2 separate regions of the Homo sapiens genome follow, and region 1 is linked to region 2. A link means that fine-mapping ties the variant in region 2 to the expression of a gene that starts in the linked region. Tissue or cell type: whole blood. Region 2 holds a variant in brackets; the other region holds the start of a gene. All regions are shown on one strand. Distances are from middle to middle.

Region 1 (8,099 bases), 28 kb before region 2:
AGGCCTGGGCCTGGGGCATGCTGGCTGTGGGTGGCGACTCCACTGTTACACCACCGTATACCTGCCCCAGTGCTGGGCTCTGATGGTGGCAGCTGTGCTGGGGAGAGGGTACTGTTTCCAGCCCCACATCAAGAGGAGACGGAGGCCCAGAGAAGTAGGCAGGAGACTTTCTCAAGCCTCATAGGCAGCACCCACTGAAGCAGGGCGGGCTCTTTGGCCCTGCGCTGCCAAGGCTTTGGGGCCAAATGTGGCCACAGCGAAGACATTTAATTTCTGTTCTGTCCATCTGCAGTGACTTGAGGGAGGCAAACCCGGGGGACAGGAGTGGTGTTCTTGTCCTCTTTTACAAAGCAGAGAGCTGAGGCTGAGGGCCCAGTACCATTCAGGAATGTACACGGTTTTGAAGGTCTCTGAGACAGTATCCTCTGGACAGCCATGGCGAGAGAGGACAGGGCTCTGAGTGGGGACTCACTGGGGACGCTTTCAGACTTCTTGAGCTGGCTAGGGCCTGGCGCCTTTCCCATCCAGGCCCCTCAGCTTCTGAGACCTCCTCTACTGCTGGCCCCTCCTCTGCTCCCCCCTCTGGAGCCCAGGGCCCCCCAGTGGGCTTTGCCCCTCTGCTGGCCCTAGAGGGTCACTGAGTCCACACTGGGGCAGAAAAGAGGTGTGGGGGAGAGTGATCTTGAGGTTTCCAGTCCCTGTGACTGGCCTCTGACCCCTGACCCCGCGCTCCTCGGCCCAGGCTGGCGCCCCCACACCCCTCTCCAGAGCAGCAGCCAGGGCAGAGGTTGGGCGGGGCCGCTGGCTGGGCTCCTCCCCCAGATCTGTCAGGGCCCTGCAGGCAGCCACCCACCCCCACCCCAGCAGGAATGCGGGAGGGGCCCCTCTCTGGAGCCGTTGCCCCCAAACATAGGCTTGTTTTAGAGACGGCCTTGCTGTTACAGTGTCCTCTCTGCATTAGTCAGGACGCCTCCGTCTCCATGGAAACGGCTGCTGAACTGGCGACAGCTGTCCGGGTGCTCCCGGCAACCCCTCCCGGCTCCCACCCCGCCCGGGACCCGCCCCCATCTCGCACCACGCCCTTCCCGGGCCTGCTTTCCCCAGGCTTTTGTTTCCTCACCTGGAGTCCTTCTGGGCAAAGCTGGGGCGAGTCCTGCGGGCGGGGGTGCAGGACTAGGCCACTCCTGCAACCCCCTGGCCTCAAGGCCCCTTTGCTCTCAGGGGTCGCGTCTGCACCCTCAGGGTTGCTGTGAAGATCAGGGCTTGCCCATAAGCCTGGTGCTCAGTGGGGCTGCGGCTCTGTTTGTTCCACCACCTGCTACCTTCCCTTTTGGTGTAGTGGCAGGGAGACCACCGCATGTGCATTTACGCAGCCCCTTCTCGGCAGCCTGGATCGTGGCTGGTCCTCTGTGAGGGCGAGGGGTGTGCCCAGGACTCAGCTCTGCGGGAGCTGGTGGATGCACACTCAGGCCTGTTTCTCAGCCAGGGGAAAACAATTGGTTCAGAGGCTGGATCCCTGGGGACACCAGGAGCAGGTGCGGGCAGCTCTGAGCTTCCCACCACTCCCTGGCTGAGCCTCTCTAAACTGGGCCTATAGACCCATGGGGGCTGGGAGCCTTCCTGCAGGAGGCAGAGGCTGAATAGATGAGGTAAGGACCTGGGGATGGGGCAAGGGCCAGAAATGGGTGTTTTAAGCCTTACCCTACAGATGGGGTTTTCCCAGCATGGCTGGGAGCCTGGCATGAGGCCTGAGATATCCCACAGAGGCCAATGAGGGCAGGACTGCGTGGGCTTAGGGCTCAGCAGGCTCGGGAGCCACACCTGGCCTCCCAGCCTCCTTGACTTCCACCTTCCCCAGGAGATGGAGTTCTACATGCGGACCTTCAGACATATGCGCCCAGAGCCCCCTGGCCAGGCCGGGCCAGCAGCAGTGAATGCCAAGTGAGTGCAACCTGGGCATGTGCCACTGGGCATCTCCAGTTAGCATGGCAGGGCCATCGAGGCAGGAGAAGGGGGTAGGCTAAGGTCGGGGCATGGGTCAGGCCCTTCTCTGAGCTAACAGGAAGGGAAGCTTCTCTCAGCACCTCCAGTGGGGAGGGATTTGGGGAACAGGCCCCAGGCTTACCCTCCTGCTTCCCCCTCAGTCCCTCCCAGTTTCTTGCCACCCGTGGCCAAGCGGAACCTCCACCACCCTCTTCCCCAGACACTCTCGCCCTGCCTCCCCGGATCCGACCCCAGGTAGGAGGGACTGTGCTGGGCCTCCGGTCCAGGTGGAGTGGGATAGAAAGAAGCCTCTACCCTGGCGCTCGCCTCTGCTTCTTTTGGCGATGTGGGGCCCTCAGGCTCCCCCGTGTCTCTGCAGAAAAAGAGGAAGAGGCGCGTGTATAAAGTGCGAACGTCTGAGACCTCGGATCCGGCGTCGGGTGAGCGCCTCTCCCTGTCCGGGTCCTGCTCTGGGAACTCGAGGGAGGGGAAGGCAGAGCCACAAGCGAGCCGCAGCCACTGGGCTCATGTTCCCTTCCCTTGCGCAGGGCCTAGGGCCCCCAGCCGCCGCTCCAGCTCGTCGACGGATTCCGCGGACGCCAGCCCTGTGCACGCCGCTGGCCCTGCCGGCGCCTACCACTCGGCGTCGGCAGAGTCCGTGGACGAGATTCCAGTGGCGCAGACGCGCCTGGGCAGCGCCGCTCTGGCCGCCCCGCGGGGCCGGGGCCGACAGCCCACGCTGGCGCGGCAGGCGCGTGCGCCCGCCGTTTTCGTGAGCCCGAGCAGCGGCGAGCCCAGGGCGCCGGGCGGCCGGGAGGCTGGTCTGGCTTAGCTGGGCCGAGAGGCCGGAGGGCCGAGTTAGAGCGGCCGGCCTGACTCTCTATGCAACACCCCATCCTTGCCGCACCGAGTGCACTTTAGGGGCCCCTACGGCCGGCGGGATCGGCCTCCCTCCCCCACGACTCAGCAATACCCGCCCCACCGGCTGTGATGCTCCAATAAACTTTTTTATGCTTTTGCGGACGTCGCGCTTACTTTCTTAATGGCAGGGGCCACGGGCCATCCAGAAGCCCGACCCTGGCCAGTGGACCGGGGGCGGGGAGGAGGTCCCTGTATAGTAGGTAGCCACCCAGGCTGCCCTGTGGAGGTGCTCACGTGCGGCTCGTGGTTAGGAAAGGCCTTAGAAGGCGGCCTGGAGGAGGTTATTTTTCTTAAAGATGGGCTTTGCACTGGGAGGCCGAGAGAAAGCAGGCTTTGGGCTCCGAAAGCAGCAGTGGGCGCTGAGGCTGCGAGGCCGTGGGGAGGTGGCGGCGAAAGGAGGGGGCCGAGCCAGGAGGTCCCGCAGCTTTTCCCCGGCAGCAGGGCTGCCGTCGAATGCCAGCATCCTGGGGCTGGGCGAGCGCGATTCGCTCGTAGGGAGTCCCCTCCCTTCTTCCCCACTGCTCCAGGCTCTGAATCCTACCCAAGAGAGCACGGGAGTTGTGGCCTGGGGGTGCCATCCGTTCAGTGGATGGCAGTGCTCTTGAGTCAACCGTATACCCCTGTCACTGAGGGAGAGCTCCTTCCCGATTCCCCAAGCCCCACCAATGCCCCGCGCAGCTCCCCAGTGGCCTCTGGTTGACTCTCTGGGGAGCTGGATCTCTTCTGGAGATTGGGGCCGCTTAGAGCTTTAGGCACATCCCAGGATGGGAGGCTGTTTCCTCAGGGGGCCGTCCGAAGACGCCCCGAACTGCAGAGCGCTGGTCTCGCCGTCGCGAGGACCGCGGAGTTGCGGGGGAGGGGCGGGATGCGGCTCCCGGAGAGTCTCGGGGAGGGCGGGGCCTCGTGGGCGGGGCCGGCGTGACCTTGGTCACTCTCCCGCCGAGACAGCCTCGGGGGTGGGACTCGCCGTCTCTATGGAGACCGAGAAACAGGGGATAATACGGCGGAGCCGCCTGGGCTGCAGTCCCACCCGGGAGCCGGCAGGGAGCGGAGCTGCGGAGCCGCCTGGTCTCCCGCGTCCATCGGTCCATTCCTGCGTCGTTCTGTCCTTCCGAACGCACACTTCAGGAGCAGCCGCGAGGTAGAAGCCCATAGGAGACCCAGATGCCCGCCACCCCAATCAGTATCCTGCACGATGAGGGTTGGGGGGAGCAGCCTGGAAAGGGTCCCAACCTCCGGCGGTCCCAGCCGAGGAGCCAGCTGAGCGGCCCTGCCCTGGCCCCAAGCATTCCACCTCGCAGCCCCCACCTCCTGGTCCGGCTGATTGATGACTCCAGCTGTCCCAGTGGGAGCGGGACGGGTGGCTCCAGTTCACGGGTGTGGCCACTCCATCCATGGCCTGCAGACCCATGGGGCTGCGGCCTGCAACCCAGCGCCACCTGACCGCGCTGAGATGACCAAGAATCCATCTTTCCACGGACAGGAGTGAGCACTGCACGCAGGATCCGCCCAGTGCTTGGGCCAAGCACCCTGTGGCATCCAAGCTCCCCTGGACGTTACCCTTGGTGAACCAAGTGCGGGTCTTGGGGTCCCTGGTGGGAGGTTGCACCCAGGGAAAGGGAAGGGGAGTGCAGCGTGGACTGGGGTTATGGTCCCTGTAACGTAGGAACCACCGGTGCTCACAGTCCCAGAAACTGCCACTTAGGGATGGGAGTGTGGTCACTGGCGAGGAGTTTTTGGTGGAAGATGGGGCAGCCGGGCAGAGCCCAGGCCGTGGTCACTGGAAGCCCTAGTGTAAAAGGCAGAGCTAGAAGATGGTTGCTGAGACCGAGGGTGTGGTCAGGAGGTGGCAGTGGAGGAGGGGGATGTGGTGGGGAGGTCTCTACGCAGGGGATCTCCGCATAGTACCTGGGAGTCTTATAATGTTAGTGTGTGGATGTGGACTGGGGCCTTCAGTGCAGGCTGAGGGTGTGGCCAGAGGGCTGAGGGTGTGTGGACAAAGGGGTGCTGAGGGTCAGGGCGCCTTGATAAAGGGCTGCGGGTATTGGAGGGGGTGAGTGGCTGAGGCTATGGTCAGGGGTCTCAGGAAGGGATGCAGGTTTGTGGCCAGGGGCCTCAGCCCCAGGGCTGCGGGTGTGGGGATGGAGAAGGCTGCTGTGTAGGCTCAGGGTGTGGCCAGGGGTCTGCAGCGGAGGGCTGTGGGTGTGGGGGGCACTTTAGTGCTGGACTGTGGGTATTACTGGGGTTGGCGCAGGCTTGTTAGTATATATGTGGGGGCTGGTGGCCGAGGGCTGTGGCTGTGGGTGTGAAGATGGAGGATGGAGGGCTGAAGGTATGGCCAGGGGTACAAGGCCCAGGGGGTGGCAGGCCAGGGCTGAGTGCACAGGGTCGCTGGGAATGTGGGCTGGTGTGGCCAAGTTCAGGGCGTGGCCAGGGGAGGTCTGAGGTGTAGACATGATGAAGTGTGTTTCAGCCACAGCCCCACTTGCCAGCACGACTCTTGGGGTTCGTAACTCTACAGCCCCCACGCTACTAGCCCCCAACCTCCTGCTCCCCCAAAACTCCACAGTGGGAGGTTACAGCACCAGTCGGTGGCAAGGGGCCAGGAAGCCACGGTTATGCCCTAGGCGCAGGGAGTGCTGGCGTGCCCCACCCGTGGGCCCCAGCTTCCCAGCCCAGCCCAGCCCCTCAGCACTGGGAGCTTCTCCCTGAGCTGCCCTGACACCATCCTGCCCTTAGCAACATTCTCCAAGCAGCACCACCCTCCCTTAGCAACCGTCTCCAGGCTTCACAAACTGTGGCCAGGCCAGCCCCAAGCTCCCCTCATGTTTTTGTTTAACAGCAAATAGTAACAAGGCCTTGCTGGACCAGCTGCACCCCTGCCCAGGGCATGCACCCGTGCCCAGACTGGCTCTTGCTGGGTCCTCATGACCCTTACAGAGATGCTGTCCTCACTGAATGCCTGCCCGACCAGCAGCCTGGCCTGGCCCCAAGCCAGCTTGGCATGGAGCTTCCAGGGAGGGGGCCTGCTCTGCCACCCTCACTTCCACCCAAGCAAGGCCTTGTGCCAGGGCCAGACAAAGCCAGGGCCCCAGCTGCTGCCCTAACAGTCTTTCTGGACAGTGCCACTCTGTTCCCTGTGGGCATCATTATTTCATCTGCTGAACCCTGCTGAGAGCCAGGGCTGGCATTAGTGACAAGACCGTGCCTCCCGGGGCTCTTCCTTGGGGCTCTGTGGCCCAGGGCGACAGTGACGGGCCCCTCTCCCCAGGCAGCTCCAGCACCAACTCTGTAGCAGAACCTGCCCAGGTCTTGCAGGTTTGAGGTAGAGGCTGGGATGTTCTGGGCTTGGGGGAGGGGAAGGGCAGATTGGCTGGGAGATGACCCAGGTGGGTCTCTATAGGGTGGCATGGCAGCGAGCACAGACATGGCTGGGCTGGAGGAGAGCTTCCGCAAGTTTGCCATCCATGGTGACCCCAAGGCCAGTGGGCAAGAGATGAATGGCAAGAACTGGGCCAAGCTGTGCAAGGACTGCAAGGTGGCTGACGGAAAGTCCGTGACAGGGACCGATGTGGACATCGTCTTCTCCAAAGTCAAGTGAGCCCTAAGCAGCCCCTGCTTCTCATGTTCCCAGGAGGTGGGGAACTGGGGGGCTGGAACCAGGGAGGACATCAAGAAGGGGTCAGGGAAACACCATGATCACGAAGGTCGTTCTTCCAGGGCAAACCTTATATCTATTGCCCTCCAGAGTTGCTGACCCCTGCGACTTCCCCAAACGTGGGAAAGAAACGCAATTGCATAATTTGTGGTGGCAGCAAATGTGTTTGAGCTTTCCCCTGGGGGAGAAAAAAGAAAGGGGAACCCTCATGGTGCCCACATGCCTGTCAGGGGGAAGTCTGCTCGGGTCATCAACTATGAGGAGTTCAAGAAGGCCCTGGAAGAGCTGGCGACCAAGAGATTCAAGGGGAAGAGCAAGGAGGAGGCCTTCGATGCCATCTGCCAGCTGGTGGCAGGCAAAGAGCCAGCCAATGTGGGCGTCACTGTAAGTGCCCTGCTGGTCTCGGGTGGCCACGGAATGGGGTGTGGGGAATCGTGGCTGTGGGTGGGAAGGGCTGGGCTCCCTCATCAGGTGCCCCTGGGGAAACTCTGTCCAAACAGAAAGCAAAAACAGGGGGTGCTGTAGACCGGCTGACGGACACCAGCAGATACACGGGCTCCCACAAGGAGCGCTTCGATGAGAGCGGCAAGGGCAAGGGCATTGCGGGACGGCAGGACATCCTGGACGACAGTGGCTACGTGAGCGCCTACAAGAATGCAGGCACCTACGATGCCAAGGTGAAGAAGTGAGGCTTGGGAAGACCGCCCTGCCAAGTGCGGCTGCCCCTGCCAGAGGCTCAGGCCTGGGTCTAAGGGGCACGTGGAGCAAGAGATCCTGGTCCCCTCCCTGCTGGACCTGCCACCCAGAGCTTCCTGCCTAGTCCCACTGGGCTGGCCCACCAGGCCTCTGACCCAGGCTGCTCTGCGGCCCCTTCCTCCTCCTCTTCCTGCTCCAACTTCTGTCCACCTGGGGACAGTCTGTGCCTGTAGCCTCATGACCCCAACCCAGCCCCAGGCATGGCTAACCCCTGACTGCTTGCCTCATATTTAAGCTGCTGCTCTGGCCAAGTGCCTAATTTTAACCCAGACCTCAATAAAGACACCTTTTGTACCAATATGGCCTGGTTGACGATGATGGGGGAATGACATTCACACTCCAGTGACCCCCTCAGTGTCATCACCCCGCTGCATGCCACACACTGCTAATCACTCCCCTTCCCCTGGCAGCCTTGCCCAGAAAAAGGCACTCATGAGTCCCCTTCTGTTAGCACAGAGCCATTCTGTCTGAGGAGACTCCTGGGGAAGTCCAAAGCCTTTTAGCTGGGCCTGACGGGAGTCCTGACATCAAAGCTTGCCTTCCTGTGACCAGTGCCTTGGGTTTGGAGAGTTGGCCCCCTCTCCACTTTCACAGCAGTAGGAGGGATGAAACAGCCGACTCAGCCTGGGCCAAGCATTGGCAGAGGCCCCAGAGCCAGGCATCAGCTTTCAGTCTGCGAACAGGGGCTACCGAGGCAAGTCATTTTGGGTTCTGGCTCAGAATACAGAAAACGCAGGGCCAGGCAGAACCTTAGAGAGTAGCTCATCCAGGCCGGGCGCGG
Region 2 (8,100 bases):
TTTTCCATCTTAGTAAATGAAAGCTCTGTTCTTCTAGTTATTCAGACTCAAAACCACAGAATTACCATTGACCCTCTTTCTCCCACACTTTATCCTGGATCCATCAGCAAACCATGGAGTGTCATCTTCAGAACATATTCAGAATCTGACTACTTCTCACCACCTCCACCGCTATCTGTCTAGCCCAAGCCATCATCATCTGTTACGCTGATTCCAATCTCTCCAAAGCATTTTAAAAAAATTTCTACCCTCCTCCCCATAGTCTATTCTCAGCCCAACATTCACAGTAATTCTTAAGTGAGATCACATCACTCCCTTGCTACAAACTCTCCAACTCCTTCTGATCTCACCCAGAAAAAAGTCTGGCATCTTTCTTACTTCATCTATACACTCTACTTTCTTTGCTGAGGCCGCACTGGCCTCCCTGAGGTTCCTTGTACATGAAAAGTATGTTCCAGCCTCAGGACTTTTGCATTTATTCCCACTGTCTAGAAAGTTCTCCTCCCAGACCCACATGGCTTATACTCCCACTTCATTCAAGTCTCTACTTTTATGGTGCCTCATCAGAGAAGCTTTCTGGACCATTCTATCTAAAGCATCGCCTCCTCCTTATCACGCTCTATGCCCTTATATAATTTTTTCACAGCATTTACCATAACCTGACATATATTTGCATGCTAAAATGTTTATCATGTGTCTTACCCCATGAGAATGTAAGCTCTATGAAAGTAGGGACTGTCTTCTTATTATGGTAAAATATACATGGAACTTTATTTTGGTTGCTACTTTATCTCCAGAGCTAGAACAGTGTCTGGGACACTGTAGGTGTTCAATGAGTTTGGTTGAATAAATAAGTAACAGAAGAGTGATCTCTGTCACTAACTCTGAAACTAACTTCTGTTTTTGTTTTCAAGATGGAGTCTTGCTCTGTTGCCCATGGAGTGCAGTGGCCCGATCTTGGCTTACTGCAACCTCTGCCTCCCAGGTTCAAGCAATTCTCCTGCCTCTCAGCCTCCTGAGTAGCTGGGATTACAGGCGCATGCCACCATGCTCAGCTATTTTGTGTGTGTGTATTTTTGGTAGAGACGGGGTTTCACCATGTTGGCCAGGCTGGTGTCGAACTCCTGACCTCGTGATCCACCCGGCTCAGCCTCCCAAAGTGCTGGGATTACAGGCATGAGCCACCGTGCCCAGCCTGAAACTAACTTCTTCTGAAAGTAAGTCAGAATAGAAGTGACTGTGAGTAAAGACTAGATGTCCTGGGATGCTGCTTAACTAAAATAGCAAGTAGCTGCAATGCTCACTTTCCTACAAATTTTCCCTAATATATATATCATGTTAAACTCATACCCTACAGATTTCTCGAGGTTCCAAGAACCACTGGTGACCCTAAAATACAACTTAAGAAATGCTAATACAATTTCAGAAGGGTTAATTCCAAAATTTTCACTTATATCTTCTATCTTCATGCCTATGAAGAAGACCTGTAAACTGACAGGAAGCTGTTACCTGAACTAAGCTTCAAAAGCCTTCCAGTGCTGGAGTCAGGGTTTGACAGAGAAGTTAATAAGTCTCCACAGGAATGTGAAGCGGTGGTCTTTATGTCATTTGAAGGCTTTATGCTATACTCTTGATAGTTCTTGCTTCTCTGAGGCCTTTTACCAAGACTTCCATGCAGGGATAGAGTTTGAGAATAACAACTGTCATAATTTTCCAGACCAACATCTGAAGGTAACTGATAGGGATGGATCTGGCTAGAATCACCCACATCCAGGCATTTACTCAATGAGGCATCATGGGTAAGATGAAAAGTATCAGGTTTTGGTATCAATTCCTTTTCTGGAGAAGAACCTGAAGACTTATTGTCCAAAAAAGATACTTGGTACCCTTCTCTAGTCATCTTCTCTGGGGATCGGACTGTGGACTGACGAGGCGAGTAGTGTCTGAACTCTAAACACCACCAAGGCAAAAAAACAAAACATGATAAGAATTCTTTGTGGCCTAGCTGGGAGTACCTCTGTTCACTGAACATATTCTCTGTCTGCCAGAAACACCTCTCAGGAAGAGGTGGTTTATAATTCTGATCAATGGTAGCATAAAGTGATGAAAGGACTTCCACATGGAACACCACCACCACCAATAAAATGTGGGACTTTTGTGTAAACAGTAAAGAATCTATAACATTCTGGAGACAAATTCTGTTTCTTTTTTTTTTTTGAGACAGGGTCTCACTCTGTCGCCCAGGCTGGAGTGCAGTGGCGCAATCTCAGCTCAGTGCAACCTTCGCTTCCCAGAGGGAAGCGATTCTCGTACCTCAGCCTCCCGAATAACTGGGATTACAGGCACATGCCACCATGCCCAGCTAGCTTTTGTATTTTTAGTAGAGATGGGGTTTCACCGTGTTGGCCAGGCTGGTCTCCAACTCCTGACCTCAAGTGATCCACCCGCCTCGGCCTCCCAAAGTGCTGAGATTATAGGCAAGCACCACCATGCCCGGCTAATTTTTGTATTTTTTGTAGAGATGGAGTTTCACCATGTTGGCCATGCTGGTCTCAAACTCCTGACCTCAGGTGATCCACCTGCCTCGGACTCCCAAAATGCTGGGATTACAGGCATGAGCCACTGTGCCTGGTCCGAAAAAAATTTTTTTAATTAGCCAGGTGTGGTGGTAGTCCTAACTACTTGGGAGGCTGAGGTGGGAGGATTGCTTGAGCCCAGAAGTTTGAGGTTATTATGAGCTCTGATTGTGCCACTGTACTGTACTCCAGCCTGGGCAACAGATTGAGAACTTGTCTCAAAAATAAAAAAAATTAAAAAAAAAGAGAGAAGGAAGTGGGAAGAGAGAGAGAGAACGAACTGCCTAGAAATCTACACCCATCTAAAATACCCTTCAAGAATGATAGTGAAATAGAGGCATTATCACACAAAGAAAAGCTGAAAGAGCTCATCACTAATAGACCTACATTAAAGTATGTGCCACTGTAAGGCAAAGGAAAATGATATCAGAAGGGAAGCCTGGGAAGAAAAAGGAAGTGAACAAACAGTAGTAAATTAATGGATAGATTTAAATCTACACTGACTATATAAAAAATAATATCTTGTGAAGTCTTTAAAAATATAGAGAATTAAAATTCATAATAACAACATATAAGTCAGGAAAGAGTAAATGAAATAAAGTACTGTACGGTTTTTGAATTATCCAAAAGAAGACTTAAGGTATTAACAATTTAAAAATTATGTAAGTTAAGGATACATATTATCATTTGGGGAATAATACTAAAAGTATAGAAAATGTATATAACTTATAAACCAGTAGAGAGAAACAAATGGATGAATAAAAAATAATAAATACAAAAGAAGGCAAGAAAGGTAACAAAAAGAATAGTCATCCAACGCAAAAAAAATCAAGAACAAAGGAGGTCAGAATATGCACTCTTTAAGCAGAAAAGTCTCACAGGTTACTAATCATCCAGGACAGTCCCTCACAAAAGCAGAAATTAGTTGACTAAATAGGGCCCCCATATTGAGACATCTTCATCTCCCAAATCCCATCACATCCAGACTTCTCTGATTAGTGTGGGGGAAAAATACTCAGTGAGCAAAATATTTACCATCTTCCTGGTGATTGTCACTTGGCATCTCCCTTCTTGCTACTTCCTGTGTCTAAAAAAAGTTCGAAAGTTTAGGTAGAAGGAAGTCCATGCGCGTTCAAATGTGAGCTTATTAGACTAGGGGTTCAGAATACCTTCCTATTAATGGGAAAGACTATCCTTGCAAGCTAGGGAAACAGACCTTTAAGCAAAGGTCCAGTTTAAGTCTATTTTAAAACAGTCACAATACAAGGAGATTCCAGAGTTGCTTGAATATCCTTAGGAAGTAAAGGACATAGCAAACAATGACTGTACTTTCTCTGCCTTAGATAGCTCATAGAAGGTAGATGAGGGCCACTTTCCAGCTTTGCTTTTTCTGTTTAAAGGACTCTCATGCTTATTTTACCAGCTGATAAAGCTATCAACCACCATAGCTAAGGGGGTTTTAATAGGCTGAAAATTAATCTGAGGCATAACTAGGCAAGGACTGAAGGAAAACAGAAAGCCATCTAGGGTTTGCTTTTAAAAAAATTATCTTAAAGTATTCAGTGTCTTTTTGGTAGTCATGGAGAGAAAGAAATCCCACTTCCTTATTTCTTAAACTAAAAAGATACAGCAAACTATTCAATTTCCTTTTTTCTCACTTCAAGAAGTAATTTCAGAG[AAGT/T]TTTTTTGTTTGCTTTTTTATCTAAGAAGTGCTATTTAACTGGAGATTGCAATACTCTTTGTCTCCATTTCCTTAAGTCAATATGGTTTTAAAAAATGGTAACTGAGATTGTTTCTAAGTCACCCAAGTATAATCTCCAAAAACAAAGAAACTGATTAAATGCTTATCTTTTTAAAAGATGAAGGTAGTCTATACCCAAACTGAAAAGAATAGTACTAACTTTTTACTAATTCAGTCTTGATTGTCCAAATTATGGATTAATCAGAGCCTTTGCTGCTTTTCTTTCTCCTCCTGGCTATTTTCTACAATTTTATTGCTCATAAATGTATCAAAGAAAAGGCACAGAAAGGGAGAAGGTGAATATAAAGTAGTCAGTTCTGCTCCTTGTATCATATTCACTCACACAAACAAGTCTTACATAATGGTTGCATCCCTTCTGTCACCAATTTTTTCACTAAAACCTTATTTTTCACTCCTCCCCCATCTTGCATGATCTCTATCTTCCCATTGCCCACAACTTCCATGCCATCTTTACCCCTTAAACTTTACTTTTTCTGTTATACTGCAGAGGCAGCTTTGGGAAAGTCATACCTAAAATGTAAGACTCAGTATTAAAGGGTGTAGGTAGAAAATGTAAGAAGCAAGGCAACAGGAGATGGAGATATTGGATAGAGGGGAGAAAATTTAAAACCAGCCAAAAACTGTAACAGTTGCATTCTTGTTTGAGGACCAAAATGCCTTTCATAGATATGCTAAAGTTATATGTATAAATATATGACATTAGATAACAGGTTAGTGTGAGAGAGAGGGAAATGGGAGATTGAAATTAATGGAGAAGGTACTCTGCATTCTGTCCTGCCCTTTCCTTTAAAAGGGTCTAAAATGCCTTCATCAAACAAGTCCTCTGAGACCTTCATAAATAATTGAGAGCCCACTGAATTATCAGTATTAATCATTGACTAGTCAACAGATCAGCAGGAGAGTGAATACATTACCTGTGTCCCCAGTGGGAAGGTGTCTAATTTCTGATCACGTGTACCATTGCCCTGAGTTGCAGAAGTACTTAGGGAATCCTTTATTTCCCGGTTGGGGAAGGGAATAAAAAGTCCTTTGTTTGAGTCTGTGTTAAAAGAAAAAGCAAACAATAAAGCACTCACTGACCAGACTTCAAAGGCAGCATGTCTAATGGATAGATACTAAAAGGAAAGTCACAAGATTGAGTGCTAGTTCTGGTGCCACCACTTGGAGACCACATGAATTTGAGCAAATCACTTAACCTCTCTACTTCTCTCACTTCGTTTGGAAAACAGAGATGATAAAATCTAAACTGCCTATCTGTTAGGGTTGAGCCAGGTTAAAACAGGATAATGGATATGAAATGGCTTCATAATTTATGAAGTGCTCAACAGAAACTGAGTGGAAGGCAAATATTTTGCACATTTCCTAAGCGAATAAATAATTAACTGTGATACCAATTCCATAATCTCCAACTACAGGGGGAGATGCTGGGAATAGACTCCTGGCATTATACATCTCCAGGGTACTAATCAGCAGTCAGCACTGATTGACCATTTCAAACTAGCCTTTTTCTGCCTTGCTTTCTCTCTTTTGTAAAAAGAGAAAACTAAGCTGGGCGTGGTGGCTCACGCCTGTAATCCCAGCACTTTGGGAGGCTGAGGTGGGCAGATCACTTGAGGTTAGGAGTTCGAGACCAGCCTGACCATCATGGTGAAACTCTGTCTCTACTAAAAATACAAAAATTAGCCGGGCCGGGAGTGGTGGCGCGCGCCTATAATCCCAGCTACTCAGGAGGCTAAGGCAGGAGAATTGCTTGAACCAGGGAGGTGGAGGTTGCAGTGAGCCACGACTGTGCCACTGCACTCCAGCCTGGGCGACACAGTGAGACTCTATCTCAATAAAACAACAACAACAACAACAACAAAAACAAAAAAAAGAGAGAGAAACCAGTCAGGACCTATTTCATGGAGAAGAATGCTAAATCCTTAGGTCTCCCAATGTATTTTTTACAGTTTATTTTGTTTTATTCAATTGTAACTAATGCTATTAGAGAGATTCTTGTTTTATCTTGTTTTTTGGTTACCACACAGAGAATGTGGAAGTATCATCCCCTGCTATTTATAAAATCCTTGTAAATTGATTAAATTAGTGATGGGGCTGGAAATATTCACCATGAGCTTAAATATATTTATTAGTAGTACTTTAGGCTCTGTATATATATTCAAACTTCTGGCCAGGCACGGTGACTCACATTTGTAGTCCCAGCACTTTGGGAGGCTGAGGCGGGCGGATGATGAGGTCAGGAGTTTGAGACCAGCCTGGCCAGCCTGGTGAAATCCCGTCTCTACTAAAAATACAAAAATTAGCTGGGCGTTATGGTGCACACCTGTAATCCCAGCTGCTCGCTAGGCTGAGGCAGGAGAACTGCTTGAACCCAGGAGGTAGAGGTTGCAGTGAGCCGAGATCGCGCCACAGCACTCCAGTCTGGGCGACAGAGCAAGACTCTTTCTCGGGAAGAAAAAACAAAACAAAACAAAACGTATTAGAACACTCTGTATGTTATTTTGTGTGAGATTTGTTTTTGTTTTTGTTTTTTTTAATTTTTACATTAAAAAAAAGTTTTAATAGAAATAGGGTATCCGTATGTTGCCCAGGCTGGTTTAGAACTCCTGGGCTCAAGCAATCTGCCAGCCTTGGCTTCCTAAAGTGTTGGGATTACACGCGTGAGCCACCAGGCCTGGTAAGATTTGTTTTATAGTTAAAGAAAAATAATTTTTTAAAAGTAAAGGAAATAGTGTTCCATTTTCATTAAAAAATACTGTTAGGGCCAGGCATGGTGGCTCATACCTATAATTTCAGCACTTTGGGAGGCCAAGGTGGGTGGATCACCTGAGGTCAGGAGTTCGAGACCAGCGTGGCCAACATGGTGAAACTCCGTCTCTACTAAAAATAAAAAAATCAGCCAGGCGTGGGCGCCTGTAATCCCAGCTACTCAAGAGGCTGAGGCAGGAGAATCGCTTGAACCCGGGAAGCAGAGGTTGCTGTGAGCTGAGATCGCACCATTGCACTCCAGCCTGGGTGACAGAGTGAGACTCCATTTCCAAAAGAAAAGAGAAAATCTCATTAGTATTTTGCAGTTCACCTTTCAAATTCTGATGTTAGTTTAATACATATATTCACAAAAAAGTGATAAATTTTAACTTTTTTTCCTGTATTATAATTTTATTTTTTTACCAATATTTTTACTGTGATTAGAAAAATTATTTTAAAAATAAAAAGTAAAAATAACAAAAACTGTAGCCCAGTTCTGGCCACTTTGGAAACTGTTATCAAGAAGAGCCTGTCAGCAATTCTATCAAAGGCCAGGCACAGTGGCTCGTGTCTGTAATCCCAACACTTTGGGAGGCCCAGGTGGGTGGATCACTTGAGCCCAGGAGTTCAACACCAGCCTGGGCAACATAGTGAGACCCCCATCTCTATTGAAAATACAAAAATGAGCCAGGCTTAGTGGCATGAGTCCCAGCTATTTGGGAGGCTGAGGTGGGAGGAACCCTTAACTTGGGAAGTCGAGACTGCAATGAACCAAGATTGTGCCACTGCACTCCAGCCTGAGTAACAGGAGTGAGACAAGAATGACAAGAAAGAGAGAACGATTCTATTAGGTTGTCATATTTGTACAAACGTTTTTCCACTCTTGATCAATACATTTATTAACGTATAATTCTGGGATTTGAGGTCTTCTGGGGGGACTTGAATGAAAACAAGAGTTTTGCTTTTGTTTAAGGAATTTTTTTCCAGCAGGATTATGTAAGAAGATAGTAGCAA

Evidence for each region. PIP is the estimated chance that this variant, and not a neighbour inherited with it, causes the effect.
Region 1: TPPP3 starts here. The variant in region 2 is fine-mapped to the expression of TPPP3 in whole blood (TOPMed, PIP 0.96).

What each region holds. Positions count from the first base shown.
Region 1 is chr16:67,389,326-67,397,424 of GRCh38, reverse strand. It overlaps TPPP3 (tubulin polymerization promoting protein family member 3), which reads left to right and starts at 3,927. Exons shown (of 4, transcript NM_015964.4): 1 at 3,927-4,045; 2 at 6,308-6,501; 3 at 6,793-6,946; 4 at 7,063-7,616. The coding sequence starts at 6,314. The coding sequence ends at 7,251. ZDHHC1 (zDHHC palmitoyltransferase 1) reads left to right here. Exons shown (of 12, transcript NM_001323627.2): 9 at 1,859-1,941; 10 at 2,145-2,238; 11 at 2,363-2,423; 12 at 2,532-3,273. The coding sequence ends at 2,815. It also overlaps the pseudogene RNU1-123P.
Region 2 is chr16:67,360,867-67,368,966 of GRCh38, reverse strand. It overlaps LRRC36 (leucine rich repeat containing 36), which reads right to left. Exons shown (of 14, transcript NM_018296.6): 6 at 5,253-5,377; 7 at 3,612-3,663; 8 at 1,510-1,950. Among named protein-coding and RNA genes, the nearest start is that of TPPP3, 29 kb to the left of the region's middle. The variant AAGT/T (reference allele first, on the strand shown) is at 4,255.